Linked DNA regions of Homo sapiens: all the other regions are reported to be linked to region 4. Evidence: microRNA targets listed by miRTarBase, many of them from high-throughput screens and not tested one by one. Region 4 holds a microRNA gene; each other region holds the end of a gene's coding sequence.

Region 1 (4,871 bases), not on the chromosome of region 4:
GGTTTCCTCAGCCCCCCTTGGAGTGGCCACACTAAGTGCAGCCTGAGGACAGCCAGGGACAAAGGAGATCCCGGGCGCCTGGAAGGAGAACCTGGGCCTGCCCGGGGCTGAGGGAGACCCCCCAGGGCCTGTGGCCATCCCAGCCAGGAGCCCTTCACTCTGGGCCAGGCATTTGCTATTCCTTTGGCCAACACCCCACACCCCCTGCAACCAGACACTGCCCTTCCTGCGGGACTGGCAGGGTGGGGGGCTCCTCCCACTGCCTCTCCTGTCTCCCATTGTGCCCCACAGTCCCCCATATGCCAACACTGGGCCTGGGGCTGAGGCACCCGGGACGTGCCCAGCCCAGGTCTGCGGGCCTTGAGCCTGGCATCCACGGTCCCAGCCCAGAGCTTCTCAGAGTCCTGCAGGCCAGCGCCAGGCACCTCCAGGCCCCAGGAAGCTTTGATCTGCTGTGTTAACCCTTTAACTCGGAAAAATGCACCGAGGGCCCCAGGGTCTAAAAGGCATGAAAGCCGAGTCAACTGTAGAACTTGTTTAAATCGATTACCGAGGGATTCATGTTCCTGCTCCTGAAGCTCCTACAGTCATCCTCTCTGATCTGCTGATTCAGGGGCTCTACCCCAGGTGTCTGTCCAGAGAATGCACACACCCCATCCTCCGCCTGGAGCCTCCCTCTCAATGGTGGCCAGGAGCGCTCAGCTGACAGCCACGGATAACCCCACACTTGGACGCCCTTCTGTCACAAGATGACCCTGCCCCAGCTGCGGCCTTAGCTGAGGGTTGGGCTCTGCACCTGCAAAGAATGCTGGGGTGGCACCCCCGCAAATACTATCAAGGGCTACTTTCCTGGGACAATCTGCATCCATCTCAGCCGATGGGACACCTGCTGCCACTCCTGCCCGGCCAAGTACCTGTCGCTGTCCTTCCACGGCACCCTCCGCCCTTCCGCGGCACCCTCCTCCCTTCCGCGGCATCCTCCTCCCTTCCGCGGCACCCTCCTCCACACGACTCTCAGGCACCGCCGGGGGCTGCTTACCCAGGGAGGAGTTAGAGGCCCCTGAGCCCGCAAGGATCCCTAGAAGAGGGGCTGCGAGCCACAACCAGACAAGAGTCATTTCAAAACCAGGAAGCAAAAAACATTTTTACGTTTTTATTTTTTAGAGAGAGGATCACCCTGTCACCCAGGTGGGAGTGCTGTGGCGCAATCTTGGCTCACTATAGCCACGGCCTCCTAGGCTCAAGCAATCCTCCCACCTCAGCCTCCCCAGTAGCTGACTACAGGCACGCACCACCACACCCGGCTAATTTTTCTATTTTTTTGTCAAGATGGGGTCTCACTATGTTGGCTGGTCTTGAACTCCTGGCCTCAAGTGATACGACTGCCTTGGCCTCCCCAAGTGCTGGGACTACAGGTGTGCGCCACTGCGCCCGGCCAGGTTTTTCACAAGAAACCCAGACGGTGGGATTGGGATGCTGGAGGAAGTGGAAGCCGCCCCTGCCGCCTCCCCACCGCGCTGTGCTCTGTGCATCCCGGACGCTGTTCCCAACACGCGCCCCACATCCGCCCCACACGCGCCCCACACCCGCCCCACACCCGCCCCACACGCGCCCCTCACGCGCTCCACACCCGCCCCACACGCGCCCCACACCCGCCCCACACGCGCCCCACACACGTTCCACACACGTTCCACACGTGCCCCACACCCGCCCCACACGCGCCCCACACCCGCCCCACACGCGCCCCACACCCGCCCCACACCCGCTCCACACGCGCCCCACACACGTTCCACACGCGCCCCACACCCGCCCCACACGCGCCCCACACCCGCCCCACACGCGCCCCACACCCGCCCCACACGCGCCCCACACCCGCCCCACACGCGCCCCACACCCGCCCCACACGCGCCCCACACCCGCCCCACACCCGCCCCACACCCGCCCCACACACGTTCCACACGCGCCCCACACCCGCTCCACACGCGCCCCACACGCGCCCCACACGCGCCCCACACGCGCTCCACCACAGGAATGGTTTTGTCGCGACCACTGGTTTGTGACCAGCTCCTCTGAAGCGAGAAGCCCGTTCTCTAAGGAGCTGGGGCTGGGCAGCCAAGCTGGCCCCGGCCGAGGGAGCGTGGGATCTGCTGCCTATGGCTCCTGTACGCCCGTCTGTCCCATCGGCCGGGGCCTTGGAGGGTGTCCGGGCTGTCTCTGTGGATGCCGTGTCTGCTCGTGTCAGGGAAGGGCCAGGACACTGAACAGCAGGGACACAGGCTCCAACTTGCCTCGGCCACCCACTCGCCAGGCATCCTTGGCGGGGCTGCTGGGGCTATGAACCCTGAGCAGGCAGCAAGGCCAGAGGAGGTCGGATCATGGGGGCTCACAACAAGAGGGGCTGTGCATAGGGGCCACCCACATGCCCTGGAGCCAGGAGGCCCCAGAGTCCCTGGGACCACCCCCACCCCAGGCAGCCTGGGAAGGCTCAGGGTGCTGGGCCCCCGCCTGGGAGCTGAGAGTGGTCCTGCTCTGCACTTCCCAGACACTCTGAGTGGGGTACACCACCACATCCAGCCTGCCCAGCCCCGCTGCAGGACATGGGCCAGCGAGGCCCTGCAGGGCCCTGGGACGGGGGGAGCTCGGGCAGGGGGAGCCAAGCTGGGCCTCAGGGGCCTGGGGACGCACCACCCCCTTGCTTTCCACAACCTGAAAACAAGGACTGATCAGTCACTGATTCACAGTCCAAAAACCAACCCCCAAATCCCAGGGCTTCCAGCAACAAAGGAGGACCTCTCTCACTTCCGGGTCAGCAAGAGCTTCAGGGCTGGGCCCACTCCGCGTCTCCTCCCTGCAGAAGGACCCTCTGCTCTCCGCCCCCAGAGCAAGGCAGTGGGCTGCCTGGGTGTGGAGCAGCTGGGTAGGGTGAGGGCAACGGGTGGGGTAGGGGGGGTGCAGCCCACAGGCGAGGAGCAGGCCGGGGGCCTTGCCAGGGCCATCTGTGTCCCTGGTCACTGAGGATGGCAGGGGAGACTGGAAGGGAAACAGACCCCCAGGTGGTGAAGGCCCTGAGCCAGCCCCCACGGCAGCCCCTGCAGGCCTCAGTGCTCCTGGATCCTACCAGGGCCGCAGCAGGAACTGAGGCTGAAGCAAATCAGGGCGGCTGGTGGCACAGCTGGGGCCACACCCAGGCACAATTCCTTCCCAACACAGCCAGCAGACTATCTTGTGGGCACCAGCGCCTGCTCAGGGACGGACTTGGGGCCTCCACAACTGCAGTCCCCACAAACCCTGTGCACGGTCCACCCTGACTGCGTGGGGGCTGGGGCCCCCAGTGGAGGGATGTGGCTTGTTGTCCTGAGGAGAGTGGGGGCAGCTGTCCCAGGGTGTGCCCAGCCCTGTGAATCAGGGAAGCAGCTCATGGGAACGGCCCTGGCAGTGCAGGGGAAGTTCACAGAGCCATTTATTGAGCCCCACAACCGACCAGAGGGAAGGGCGTCCACCAGGCTCAGGCCATGGTCCTTGAGGGGCCGGCGCTCTCTACTTGGCCCACATGTGTCCTGAGGAGTTGTGGCATGCCCGCTGCCCTGGTCAGAGCTGGCCGCCATCTTCCAGCTGCATCTGCCGGGCCAGCGTCTGCCCGATGGCCACCAGGGGGCTGGCTCTGTAGGCCGGACTGGCCAGCAGCTCCTGAAACCGGGTCCTTTCTTCCTCGCTGAAAGAATGGAGACCACAGATCAGCAGGCAGGAACCCCCGGACCCCTCAGCCCCTCAACACCCGGAAACGTCAGACACCGAAATGAATGGCAGAGGCCTGGGGCCACCACGGGACTGAGTACTGGGGCCTCGGAAACTTCCGGCAGGAGGGGAGAGGCTGCCCCGGGCCCTCCTCGTGGCCACGTGCATCCCAGAGCCCTGGCAGCGCCCACTGTGGGGTCTGCCGTTGAGGTGTCACCCAGCCAGCAAGTCTGGGGCTGATGGGGCTGCCGCCAAGGCTGAGAAACGCGGCGGCAACTCCCAAGCCCTGCAGACTCACTCCTTACATGAGAGACGGCTCCCTCCACGGGCAACCAAAATAGGTGCACACAGAGGAGAGCCGAGAGCCGAGAGCCGAGAGCCTGAGCCGGCAGAGGCCTGCAGCAGAGTGGGGCGCGGCAGCCCCAGATGGGTGCCACGGCGACGACCCAGCATGGCACCAGCTCACCCCAGCCGCCACCCAGCCCGGCGGCCACTCAGCTCCTGCTCTAAACCCCGCGCAGCCAGCCGCACGCCAGAGAGCTGCCCTGTGGAACACAAAAGGTGGCCTGGGTCCCCTCTCAGGCACAGAAGCCTCGGGGGCAGCTCCCAGACGGGCTCTGCCGCAGCTGCCAAGAGGCCCTGAGCCTGGTGGCGGGGAGGTGGGGCCTGTACCCCTCCGGCCTGTGTGCCCCGTGTGCACGGAGCCTTGTGCAAGGCTGGACCACACTGGCCCTGGTTTCCTGGGCAGTTGACAAGGCTCTTTCACACCCCGCTGGACGACCGCCTGGGCGGGGTGCCCACACACCAGAGCCACAGAGGACAGTGGGGCTGGGGCCGTCTCCACAGCAGGAGGCGGTCAGGGCTCTGCTGGTCACTAACCACCACCTCCTCCTGCCACTGCCACCCTGGCCCCAGCATGGCAGCTGGGGCTGTCCCCGTAAAGTCAGGGTGAAATGCCCCAGTCACAGCCTGGACATTACTAGTGATCTCTGGGGCTACCAGGACCCAACAAGGCCCCACCTGGGGCAACTGAGGAGCCGAGGCCAGGGGAAGGCCCAGGCCAGGTTCTTAGCACTGTGGTCCACTGGGCAGAGTCCTGGGTCAGAGCTGGGGAAGGAAAGGAGCCGTGACAGTGA
Region 2 (3,000 bases), not on the chromosome of region 4:
CCTCCGCATACCTGCTGGCCAAAACTAACATTGTTCTGTTTCTTCTCATCTCAAGGAATTGTGGGAACGTATTCTGCTCCAGTTGTTGTAACCAGAAGGTTCCAGTTCCCAGCCAGCAGCTCTTTGAACCCAGTCGAGTATGCAAGTCTTGCTATAGCAGCCTACATCCCACAAGCTCCAGCATTGACCTTGAACTGGATAAGCCCATTGCTGCCACTTCCAACTGAAGCTCAGTGACCTGGGTGGGCAGTGGCCAAGCTGCTGTTCCTATGACAGGCCCACTCAACCTGGGCAGACCGAGAGGCCCGTGCACTTTGGAATGGGAGCGTGGAACCACCTGTACAGAGTGACAGATTTGGGATGCACCACTGGATTGTAGATTGATTTTTCTTTCCTGTCCCCCTACTCCCTCCCTACCTTTTCCATCCTCCTCCTCTGCCTTCAAAAAAGGAAACTTTCCCTTGGTTGTCTTAATTTTTTTTTTTTTTGATGGAAGACCAAGGGTTGCCAGGCCCACTGTAACTGCCGAGCTGCCTGCTGTCACGTGACACTGAGGGATGGCTTGTTTCTTCCGGGTGGGAGGATGGTGGTCAGAGCCAGGAGTATGGAGATCTGAGACCGTGAGCAGGGAAGAAAGCCAGTGCTAACATGCAACCATTCCTCACGCCACCGCCACATCAGAGCTGGTTGGGAACCCTTTGCTGCTGGGGAGGCTGGAAGCATATTCCCCAAGAGCACTGCCCTGGGCATCATCTCCCTCCTGCGAGGAGCTGAGCCAGTCCCCTCACAGATGGATAAATGAGGCTGATGTTTGGAGGGAGAGGCACACGGTAAATGGCATCCCCTTAGGCGCCTCTTTGGGAAAGGAAAGTGGATGCTCCTTTGAGGCAGGCGAGGGGCTGGGAGTGGGTAGCCGTCATGTTGTCCCCCGTGGGATCCCATTTTTAACTTGACCCAGATTGTCTTGGGCTCCTTTTACTTTCAGGGGGCTGCTTTCCTGGGCCAGGCTGTGTAGCACTTCCCACCCTCAGGCATGAGTACAGACTGGTCAAAATGTTTATGCAGTCAAGGCCAAAGCCTGCCCTGAGCCCAGACACACCTGGGTCCCCATTCTGGGGCCTGGTCCCCTAAACAATCTCTTCCTCAGCCAGCACAGGGAAATCCAGACTCAGGGTTCCAGAAATCCCCCGTTCCCAAACCAAACCAATCATGGATCTTCCCTTTAAGGGGTAGAATCAGCCTTTAGAGTTACAAGCCCCTGGAAAAGGGAGCAGGTCCCATACAATCAGCCTTTCTCCTCTTCTCTTCTTGGGACAGGAATAACTGCTGAGCAGTCCCCCTTTGCCACTCCTGGCTGTCTGAGTGGGCACTTGTCTGGCTGCTGGCCAGCAGTGAAGGGCCACTTGGTGACTTCGTAGGGTTCCTTAGAGAAGTGACATGGCCTTGAGGAGATTCAGGGCACCTTTCCTCAGTGAGCTTTGATATGGTCCAAAAACAGCCTTAAATCAAGAATATTTGTGGAGGTAGGTGTGGGGAAGGTTGGAGAAGAGTTAGGTTTGTGCTTTGTAATCTTGGCATCCATGTTTTGTGCCTGCCCTCCCTCTTGGGGAGGCCATGCTTGACTCTGCTGAAAGCTGCTAACTGGTGACAGGGTGGATCATGGTGAGGACTAGGGGTAAGGTCAGGGAATGCTTAAGCTCTGGCCCTGCCCTGTATTCCTCTTCCCCTTGGTAGCAGTTCCCTGACCAAGGGCAAGGTGTGTCTCAGGAAGGTGGTTCTGTGCATGCCTGGGTGTGGTTAAGGCGTGGCCCAGAAGGCTTCCCTGGTGCTCTCAGTCCAGGCAAAGCCCAGAGCATCTGAGCACGTCTCTGACTTCCAGTGGCAACACAGTTTGAACGTGGTGAAACAGGGTGTAGTTCTTTTCCACATTCTGTGTCATCTAGTCGTGCAGGTAGGGAAAAAGTTGGTCTAATTGAAGATTGTGCATTTCCTAGTGACAGGTGCCAAGAGGTTATGATACGGGTTTCTTGGGTCTGATGTACAGTGTGAATAAATGCTTGCAGCTCTTAGCTCTTTTTTGATCGATGAAGCACTTTTTTATTAATATTTTCCTTTGTTAAAGGAGGAACCGTAACTCTCCATAGCTGTACATATAACCCTTTTCTCCTAAAGAGGAGTCAGTCAGTGCTCCTATATTTTTCATTTTTTGTCAAAGCAAGAAGTAAATACTTTAGAATTGTTAAATATATAAATAAAGCAAATAAAGTTGAGTGTTCCACATGGTAGCATTTGCTAACACTTCCTAATTCTTTGCCCTGTGGTTTATCCCCTCTTCGTCCCTTTTCCCTCTCACACAGAAGTGTTTGAGGGCCTGCTGGGAAACTGACCTTTGGCAAAGGAAAGCTACAGATAGCCTTCCGACTCTAGACCTTGGCAAGGAGCCTCACCATGATGTTCAAGCACTGAACGCATTTCCTCAGTGATTTTGCTCCTAAAATCTCCCAGGCTAAAAGAGGGCAAAGCAGTCAGGGATCTGACCTGGCAGCTATTCCTCCTTCTCTGAAGAGTTCCCATCAGTAGTCATTACAACTACCTCTCGCCTCAAGGCTCCATTTTTAGCTGCTGCTCTGATTTCAGGGCAGCCAGTACTCTGGCCCCTTCAGTCGGGGAGTGGAAGGAGATGTGGGGTGGGGGTGAGAAAATGCTTCTGCCTGTTGTTCTTGAAGGATAGACTATGGGTGGGCAGAGAGAACTGGGGGCAGAAATGGAATTAGATGTGATTGGGTTATGCAGTCAACTAGAGGTCTCCTTCCCGCCCTCTCTCCACACAGAGAGGAACCTCTGCTCCTTAGCTCTTACAGCAGGACTGTGGCATCTAGTCACTTCAATACTAGTTCTTGCTCTTCACAGAGGTAGATTTTTCTTTACCCTACAGCACTGTTGGGCATCCCTCCCATCACATGGGTCTGTGGGTGAGATATGTTATGCTGTTCCTCCCTC
Region 3 (4,871 bases), not on the chromosome of region 4:
CTTTTTCCTCTAGAAAAATACCTCTGTGCTCCAGAGCCTAATTTTTCCCAGATGCATATTTAGCTCTAGGGAGAGGACTAGGAGGAAATCCCCCTCCCTTTAGCTGCCTGAACTGACTGAGGCCCACTCACTAGAGCCATGTTCAGTGCTACTGTGATTAGTAGTAATTAAATATGAACTGGTATTCTCAAGTAAGCATTCCTTTTGCTCTCTTTAAGACCTCACAGATTCTGACCTTAGATTCTGTGACAAACTGATACAGGAGCTGGGCTGGCTATGGCTTTACCACAACAAGTAGGTTTGCTTAAGAAATTACTAAACAATGGCTGGGCGTGGTGGCTCACTCCTGTAATCCCAGCACTTTGGGAGGCCGAGATGGGCGGATCACGAGGTCAGGAGATCGAGACCATCCTGGCTAACAGGGTGAAACCACGTCTCTACTAAAAATACAAAAAAATTAGCCAGGCGTAGTGGTGGGCGCCTGTAGTCCCAGCTACTTGGGAGGCTGAGGCAGGAGAATGGCGTGAACCCGGGAGGCGGAGCTTGCAGTGAGCCGAGATCACGCCACTGCACTCCAGCCTGGGCGACAGAGCGAGACTCCGTCTCAAAAAAAAAAAAGTTACTAAACAAGGCTGGGCGTGGTGGCTCACACCTGTAATCCCAGCACTTTGGGAGGCCAAGGAAGGTGGATCACCTGAGGTCAGGAGTTCGAGACCAGCCTGGCCAACATGGTGAAACCCCATCCCTACTAAAAATACAAAAATTAGCTGGGCGTGGGTGCCTGTAATCCCAGCTACTTCTGAGGCTGAGGCAGGAGAACCGCTTGAACCTGGGAGGCGGAGGTTGCAGTGAGCCAATGTGGCACCACTGGACTCCAGCCTGGGCAAGAGCAAGACTGTCTCAAAACAAAAACAACAAACAAACAAACAAAAAGAAAACACAAAAAACATTACTAAACAAGATTTCTAGAGGGAATTAACAAACCAGTGCTTATTTACCAATAAACTAATACGCTAATTGCAGGAACCCTGATTAAAGCAGGCCCCTGTTAACACAAGATTCTTAGGATATACTTGGAAACAGGTGCATTGGAAACCACTGTACTGAGAAGTTTATGGGCTCAAGACTGAATTGGAAGCTAGGCGTGGTCGCTCATGCCTGTAATCCCAGCACTCTGGGAGGCTGAGGTGGAAGGATGAGTTCAGGAGTTCGAGACCAGCCTGGGCAACACAGAGAGACGTGTCTTTAAAAAAGTAAAAAATGGGCTGAGTGCCTTGGCTCATGCCTGTAATCCCAGCACTTTGGGAAGCCAAGGCGGGTGGATCACTTCAGGCCAGGAGTTCAAGAACAGCCTGACCAACATGGCAAAACTCCATCTCTACTAAAAATACCAAAAAAATTAGCAGGGTGTGGTGGTGCACACCTGTAGTCCCAGCTACTCAGGAGGCTGATGTGTGAGAATCACTTGAACCTGGGAGGCGGAGTTTGCAGCGAGCCAAGATCGTGCCACTGCACTCCAGTGTGGGCAACAGAGATTCTGTCTCAAAAAAAAAAAAAAAAGACTGAATCAGAATTTTGGGAACTAGGGTACAAGAGGGAAGGGGAGGAAGGAGGAAATAGACCCCAGTGGTCACCTCAAGGACACCCAGCCCCAGTTAGGTAACTGATATTAAGCCCCACCAGAGAGATGAGCAGGCCTGGCCACCTGGCTTTGGGGCTTAGCTGGGGAAACCAAGGCAGGCAGGGACAGCTGAAAGGGTTGGATGTTGACCTGTAGTAATTTACAGAAGGTAGCAACACTGGCTTCATTTAACACACACACAATCTGAAAAATACTAAACATGGGAAGGCCAGGGGGCAGAGGCAGCCATTCTCACACACTGCTAACAGCAGTGTAACTTGACTCAGTTCTTTTGAAGGCTAATCCATACTGAGAGCCATAAATACTTCCTACACTTTGACCTACTCTCCTAAGGAAATAATTCAAAAGAAGAAAAACAAACCATTTACAAATATGTTTAATAGCAGCATTTCTTTAAAGAAAAACAAAGTTCAAATGCCCAATAATAATTATGTTTAACACTTGGTACACATATAAATAGACAAAAGGCTGCGGAGAACACTGGATTTAAATAAAGGTGTTATGGGTATAATTAACTATAATTTATTTTATGAATAAATAAGAAAAAAGTCCCTGGCTATAAAGGATAGTGGAGGTTTATTTCCCAATATTCTTCCATTTGGACTGAACCCCTGCCAACTAAGCAGACATCCCACTATTACACCAAAAAGACTGCTCTCCCTGCGAGCAATTACAATACATGACACCACTAGGCCCAATGGCTCAGAGGGAAGAGTGGCCTGTGGCTCTTCAATCTTTATCCAAACCTGGTTCTAGCTTCAGGAGCCTTTGGTCACCTGAGACTTTTTATTTATTAATTTTTATGAGACGGAGTATTGCTATGTTGCCCAGGCTGATTCTGAACTCCTGGGCTCAAGCAGTTCTCCCGCCTGGGCCTCCCAGAATGTTGGGATTACAGGCATGAGCCACCACACGCAGCCACCTGAGACTTTTTAAACAGCACCAGCACTTCTGGCTGGTTTGAACCTTAAATGCCACCACCCACCAGAGAGGAGGCTCTCACTAGATTCTAAATCTGTTATTTAATTACTTTTCAATTGAAAAACAAAACAGACAGAAGAAACTTATTAGAATAAGGCCACCTAGGAATGTTCTTAACTTTTCCATTCAGCTTTTGGCTGATATATGAAAATACAAATAAATACATCCTTTCCCCAGGTGCAAGGCTAAACCAGCAGCTCCAAGGGCTTGGTCTACAGTGCTCAGAAAGACACACTGCCTTAAAAGTCAGGCTAGTGCCCTAGCTCCGGTGGCCTCTGCAAATGAGGCCTTGACAGTCGTCAGTGGACAGACACATAGTATCCAGCACCAGGTCTTGGGCCTTCCTGCTTCCCAGAGTTTCACAGGTAGGACGCATGTGAGGGGAGCAGTCCGTACTTCTGTTGGAGGATGGCTGTAGTACTTTCCAGGGCACTGAGGAGGAAACAGGACAGTTACCAGTCTGACTTCTCAGAAGTCCCGAGCCCACCAGAGGCTGGTGAGCAGGGACATCGAAACTGGCTAGCCTTGTTAAGCCCTGTTCATCAACCCTTGATGAAACCTTTTGAATCCTAAGAAAGCCAGGAAACTTAGTCCCACTGCAACTACCACTTCTCCAAACCTGGCCCACACTCCTTCAGGGCAACATAGGAGGCACCATCTTTATCTTGTCAAAGCTTTTTTGCATCTCTCCAACCTCCCTCAAATTATTTCCCCACACCACAGGAAAGAGACTTACCAGCCTGGACGAATGATGCCAAACTTTCCGGGCACAGACAAATCAACCACAGTTGAGCCAAGGCGACACTCGGGGCTCTGGCCATCCCCAATTTGTCCCCCATCAATAACCAAGGACAACTGAGGCCAGAGATCCTGGAACTCCTGAGAAGAGGGAGAAGGAAGAGCATGGACACTATCCCTGGTGTATCCAATAATGTCAAACTGCACGCAGTCATCAAAGGCCATATAGTCTTAAAACAGAAGGCACTTTCCTCTAAGCAGAGAAAGGAGCTTCATTTAGTTAAGGTCAACTGTGCCAAAGACACTGTATTCTATGAGGTTTGGAGGCCTCCTGGGTTAGCACTCCAAGTAACACCTATCTAGGGTTTAAAGAAAATCTTGCTATGTCAAAAGGAAATTTCACACATTGCTTCAGTTAGGGAAATATAAGTACAATGAATGGAGTTCTGGGCAGAGATACGGGCTATAACTCTAGACTTTCCATCGTATCTCCGTGTGACTGCATGCAAGTTACTCTATCCAGGCCTACAAGACAAGTGGGCTGGACTAGATGATCCTATGTCCTCATTTCATTTGTTCTAATCTATGTAGCCAAGACAGGACTAGGATGATCTTTTCTTTGACCTGGCTTGCCGCAAAGATAAGAGAACAGGGTCAAGAGTCAAAAACTAGGTAAAAAGACCAGGCATGGTGGCTCACGCCTGTAATCTCAGCACTTTGGGAGGCTGGATCTCTTGAGGCCAGGAGTTTGAGACTAGCCTGGTCAACATAGTGAAACCCCATCTCTACTAAAAATACAAAAATTAGCCGGGCATGGTGGCACACGCCTGTAATCCCAGCTACTCACTCGGGAGGCTGAGGCAGGAGAACTGTTTGAACCCGGGAGATGGAGGTTGCAGTGAGCTGAGATGGTGCCACTGCACTCCAGCCTGGGCAAGAGAGTGAGACTGTCTCAAACAAAACAAAACAAAAAAAAACTAGGTAAAAATCTGGTCACTTAATGGCTGCGTAACCTGGAACAAGTGATTCCAGCTCCTTCTAGCTCTAGAACTATGCTCCTGGATCTCACTGCGACTCTGATCAGGGTAGGAAGAGTAGAACATGGTAGATTCTGCATGCCACCAGCACTCAGTCTTTGGGCTATGAGAAGGATACTCCCCCTAGAGCAGTGGACTGAATTGTTAACTGAGCTAGAGCTTCCCCAACCCCCCAAGGAAGACACTGCAGTGGCAGTTAGGCCTGGAAATCTGGGACAGGAAATCATAAATACCAGTTACTGTGTTGGACAGGTCAAATGATTGCTGACAAGGTAAAAACCTCCCCTCCCTGTGCCACATCCCGATTCTTGCTCCTGGGGTACAGCCACCAGGACCAAGTCAAACCTGCACTCTGAGAATGGGAAGGGATGCTGAACTCTCACTTTCTAAGAACCCTGAGCCCCACTCTAGGTCTGGGAATGGAAAACCCATCGAATGGAGTTCTGAGCAGGGATACGGGCTCTAACTCTGGA
Region 4 (4,871 bases):
ATATATTTTTTTTTTTTTTTTTTAAGATGGAGTCCGGCTCTGTCACCCAGGCTGGAGTGCAGTGGTGCAATCTCGGCTCACTACAGCCTCCACCAGGGTACAAGTAATCCCCGCACCTCAGCATCCAGAGTAGCTAGGATTACAGGCGCGTGCCACCAAGGCTGGCTAATTTTTGTATTTTTAATAGAGACAGGGTTTCACCGTGTTGACCAGGCTGGTCTCAAACTCCTGACCTCAGGTGATCCACCCACCTTGGCCTGCAAAAGTGCTGGGATTACAGGCATAAGCCACCACGCCTGGCCTCAATCAAGTATACTTTTATACAAATGACAATTTAAGAATATTACACATAGTTTCACTATTTCATTTTATTTTATTATTTTTTGAGATGGAGTCTCGCTGTGTCTGTCGCCCAGGCTGGAGTGCAATGGCACAATCCCGGCTCACTGCAACCTCCACCTCCTGGGTTCAAGCAATTCTCCTTCCTCAGTTTTCTGAGTAGCTTGGATTACAGGTGTCAGCCACCACACCTGGCTAATTTTTGTATTTTTAATGGAGACAGAGTTTCACCTTGTTGGCCAGGCTGGTCTCAAACTCCTGACCTCAAGTAATTTGCCTGTCTCAGCCTCCCAAAGTGCTGGTATTACAGGCATGAGCCACCACGCCCGGTCAGTTTCGTTTTAGATGCATCTTCAAGAACTATGTACCTATCTACAGTTTTGTACCTTCTTGTTAACAGTTATTGACATTATTAAACATAACCTTAATCCCAAATTGATTTTATTCTTAGAAGTAAAAGCCAGTGCTCAAACACAAATTGAATTTCCAAAGCTAGTAGCTCTTTGGGGCTTCAGAACAGATGGATGTGAGCAGCTCTTCTTCATTTACTCTTCTACATGGTAAAGAAATAGGAAAACCTATGTCCATTAGCTTTAGGAATCAATACTCCTTTTCCTGCTGGGAGTTCACTGGCGATACTTTACTCTGAATCTGCTTTTCTTTCCATTAGGTAACTTTGATATTAATACACAATTGAGTTCATTCTTGGCTACTGTAATTACTTTCTAATTTTGTCTAGGCTGTTTTAGAGGAACTTTCCCTCTAAACAAGTCAAAGCTTTTTAAATGTAGTTCAACCATTGGAACCACTTTATGACCTTTGTTACTGTTTTTTACTATGGAGTGGTAAGTAATATACTAAAAACCTTCTGGAGAGTCTACTAGGAAAAAATTCAGTATCAGATCAGTGGTTCCTTTCTAGAAATATTCAAGGAGGCTAAATGAGATTATCTCTGCTAGAGAAGCAAGGTCAGGTAAAACACAGCTTTTAAGACAGGCCACTCCTGGCACAATCCTGGGTCAGTTTTGTCATCAGAGGGTTTGGCTTCATAGCTTTGAACTATGCTTTATGTACACACAAATTCTTTTTCTAGGTATTTATATTCAGCTGCATATGGTTTTTTAATAGGAGTTATTTCTTGGTTATTTGCTGCTTTCAGACCACCCAAATAGAAGAGATCATGATTTGGCCCCATTTCATAGGTGGGAAGGCTGAACAAAGCACTCAGGTTAGTGGCTAGTTGAAGGTCTCACAACAGAAATCAGTGAGAGTCTTTCTTTGGTTTTGTTCTCAAATTTAGGGGCAAATTTTCCTTGATGTTTATTTTTAGTCTCTGCCCTCTTTTCATATCCAGTCTACCCTAAAGCTCTGTTGCACCCTAGCACTTTAATTCAAGTGCCCCTTTGTTCGTCTGCTTTTATTCACCCATATTAATAGTCTTGACGTAGTTGGGGACTTGGATGGGCATATCTTAAAGTAAAATTTAAAAATAAACCTTATTATTCCTTCAGTCTTGGAGGTGGAACATTCCTAGGCCTATGTTGCTTGCTGACTGGTTGTGAGACCTTTGAAGAAGCTCTGGAAATGGCAGCTAAAGGCGACAGCACCAATGTTGATAAACTGGTGAAGGACATTTACGGAGGAGACTATGAACGATTTGGCCTTCAAGGATCTGCTGTAGCATCAAGGTAGAGATTAAGTAGCTAGGAGCAGTAGTGATTAAACACAAGGCAGCCTCTCCACCCTGGCCATTCACTAAGTTGTTTTAAAATGTCAGTCCACCAGCCTGGTGCAGATACCTGTTGTATCAGAGCTCAGACTTGATCTCCTGCCCTTGATGAAGCACTGAGATGTTTAGCTCTTGATGCTTGTTCTTAAAATAAGGCAACTTTGAAAGAAGGTTCTAGAAAACTGCAATAGTTTCACCTGTTCCATTCTTGTCCAGATATCTAGAGGCATTAATTTTCCCCCCCCATTAATGGACATGCTACTTTGTCCCTATTAAGAAAAGGGCGGTCAGCCATGCATACTATAATTCTGTCTGCTTATAAACCATAGTAGCAAAATTGGATCACTTGAGTTTGAACAGTTACTCGTAGAGCCTTCCACAATACTTTGGTGGAAGGATGGGCCCTGCCTGAGGACGATTTTGAACACTCTCGCTGATATTTCCAACATAGCTTTGGCAACATGATGAGTAAAGAAAAGCGAGATTCCATCAGCAAGGAAGACCTCGCCCGGGCCACATTGGTCACCATCACCAACAACATTGGCTCCATTGCTCGGATGTGCGCGTTGAATGAGGTAAGGCCTTACTCAACCCGGTGAAAGCTGTGTGTCATTCATATACATCATCTTGGCAGTGCAACACCTGTTGACTCTTACACAACTACATATCCTTAGGAAAGCTTCCCTTTACTCTAGTCACACTTTACAGAACAGGAGGGGTGTGTGTTGGGGGAGGGGGAGGAATATATGCTTTATTTTTAAGAAGGCACTGGATGATAATGAATGATAAACCATTCACCTGTGGAAACAGGATACAATTACAACCCATGTCATAGTCTCTCTAACCATCATTATTGCCATGTGTCCACTGAAATGTGAGGAAAAGGTCTGAGCATCCTTGCACATAACTGCAGGTAAAATGCTCGACTTGCAATATTCGATATTCTCTCTGCTTTCAGCTTCTTTACAGTGTTGCCTTGTGGCATGGAGTTCAAGCAGCATTGTACAGGGCTATCAAAGCACAGAGAGCTTGCTACAGCCAAGGCCAGCCAGAGTCCCAGGCACAAAAAGGGGTGGAGCTGGTGACATACAAAGTTGTATTAACATGTTTTGAAGCATTGCAAGATTCGTTTGGAAAAAATTGAACCTTTTCTGAAATACAAGGTGTATAAAGTAGAACTCTTCACACTGAGGTATATTAGAAAGACAGGAAAGAGGAGTTGAGGCATGGAACAGGTCATAGGAGAGTATTAAAGAACCACAGTAGATCTGTAATGGAGTTTTTATAAATACAGCTTTTAATAGAGGTGACATACATACAGAAGAAGGCTCAAATTATAAGCTTACAGTTTAATTTACACACACAAGCAACCCTGTATAGCCATCACCCAGATCAAGAAATAGAACATTATAGGTACTCAGAAAGCCCCTTGAGCCCCCTCTCAGTTGAATAGTTGAATGTTAGTGTATGAGGCAGTCTTTATGATACATGGGTGTTAGCCCTGCCTTTGAGTTCTGGGTTGACAAAAAACATACTCTCCTTGCATAACACTGAACAGAGTATGTTACTGGCCTGCAGATCAGCGATATACCTTTTTGGAAGCCCTCAGTTCAGACGGAGTTTAAATGGGAGGCTGATACTCAGAGAAAAGAGCATTCCAGAGATGTTTTTTCAAAGTCCACTTGAGTCATGGGACTCAATGTAACAGAGTTTATTTCTTGACATTAACCTTTAAAGGGAATTTTTCCAAGTAATGAAACAAGCCCCAAGACCAATATGTGTGTAGTTGGCTGTACTCATGGGCTCTCAAAGGTCAGCTGGTAACAACCCTTGCCCCACAGAGCAATAGATGCCCTTTCCCCTACTTTCCGCAGAGCTGGCTTCTTGTGCTTTTTGCTGGAGTGAGCCAGCAGGTCAGCAGGTCTTTTCACAGGCATCAGAATCCCTTTGGGAGAGAGCAACTGACTTTACTTTTCACTTTTGATTTCAATTTCAATATTGTTGATTGGTGGAGTAGAGCGAGTGCCAATTTGAAAATGTAGCCATGTTATACACTGGTTTGAGCAACTATTTTATATGTTTCTGTGGGGCTGAATGAGTGAAGGGAATCACCAGTCGCCTTGGGGCCAAGGCTCTACCAGAGGGTGTCCAGTCAGTGCAGACTCCCAGTGGCCGCACCAGTGACTGGCAGTGTTGCATTTCCCATGAGAGCAGCCACCAAGTCCCTCAGTCCTTGCTTTGCTCTCTGGAGTCACTGATTTGAGAACCTTTGATTGCAGCCATTTCATTGAGGGACACCACGTTTACCAAATCTAAAACATTTTTGCTGTGATTCTTGAGATGCTGTGAAATGCTTCCCCATCAGTTATAAATTTTCTGATTCAAATTTTTGGATAGATAATACAAACACATAATACAGACTTCTAAGACATTAGAAGGATACACAAGGAAGTGAGTCACCATTTCCACTTCTGTCTCTCAGTGTTAACCTCAGTAGAGGCTGCCATTTTTTTTAGGGTTTTTTTGTTTGTTTTTATTGTACGTATTACAATATATCTTTGTTTATATTGTATGTAATGTAGGATACATTTATCTTTCCAAAGGTAGCAAACTCTATATAGCATTCTTTTTACAAAATAATAGCTTTATTGAAATATAATTATATGCTATACAATTCACCCTCCATATACTATTCTATATCTTGCTTTATCAGCTTTTTATTAAGAAAATTCATAAACATATGTAAAGGAGAGAGAACAGTATAAAGAACCTCCATTAATCCATCAGTGCAGATTCTGCAATC

Evidence for each region. Region 4 holds the annotated microRNA hsa-miR-107 (AGCAGCAUUGUACAGGGCUAUCA, at 3,062-3,084, shown strand). A microRNA usually pairs through its seed, bases 2 to 8, with sites in the 3' UTR of a target mRNA and lowers its output. Matches are read on the target gene's strand: a 7mer-m8 pairs with bases 2 to 8, a 7mer-A1 pairs with bases 2 to 7 and ends in A, and an 8mer does both.
Region 1: the mRNA of SLX9 is a reported target of hsa-miR-107. The part of its 3' UTR that is shown has no 7-base or 8-base seed match.
Region 2: the mRNA of MTMR3 is a reported target of hsa-miR-107. The part of its 3' UTR that is shown has no 7-base or 8-base seed match.
Region 3: the mRNA of YRDC is a reported target of hsa-miR-107. Seed matches in the 3' UTR shown: 7mer-m8 at 2,025-2,031.

The regions. Positions count from the first base shown.
Region 1 is chr21:44,975,521-44,980,391 of GRCh38, reverse strand. SLX9 (SLX9 ribosome biogenesis factor) reads right to left here. Exons shown (of 6, transcript NM_058190.4): 6 at 3,419-3,712. The coding sequence ends at 3,589. Among named protein-coding and RNA genes, the nearest start is that of LINC00163, 16 kb to the left of the region's middle. RefSeq lists enhancers at 1-512, 513-1,411.
Region 2 is chr22:30,025,575-30,028,574 of GRCh38, forward strand. It overlaps MTMR3 (myotubularin related protein 3), which reads left to right. Exons shown (of 20, transcript NM_021090.4): 20 at 56-3,000. The coding sequence ends at 227. The region is part of intron 3 of HORMAD2-AS1 (HORMAD2 and MTMR3 antisense RNA 1); the gene reads right to left. Among named protein-coding and RNA genes, the nearest start is that of MIR6818, 20 kb to the left of the region's middle.
Region 3 is chr1:37,800,943-37,805,813 of GRCh38, forward strand. It overlaps YRDC (yrdC N6-threonylcarbamoyltransferase domain containing), which reads right to left. Exons shown (of 5, transcript NM_024640.4): 4 at 3,360-3,502; 5 at 2,003-3,055. The coding sequence ends at 2,983. It overlaps MANEAL (mannosidase endo-alpha like), which reads left to right. Exons shown (of 4, transcript NM_001113482.2): 4 at 1-191. Among named protein-coding and RNA genes, the nearest start is that of C1orf122, 4.4 kb to the right of the region's middle.
Region 4 is chr10:89,590,969-89,595,839 of GRCh38, reverse strand. It overlaps MIR107 (microRNA 107), which reads left to right and starts at 3,013; the gene lies at 3,013-3,093. It overlaps PANK1 (pantothenate kinase 1), which reads left to right. Exons shown (of 7, transcript NM_148977.3): 4 at 1,851-2,027; 5 at 2,520-2,643.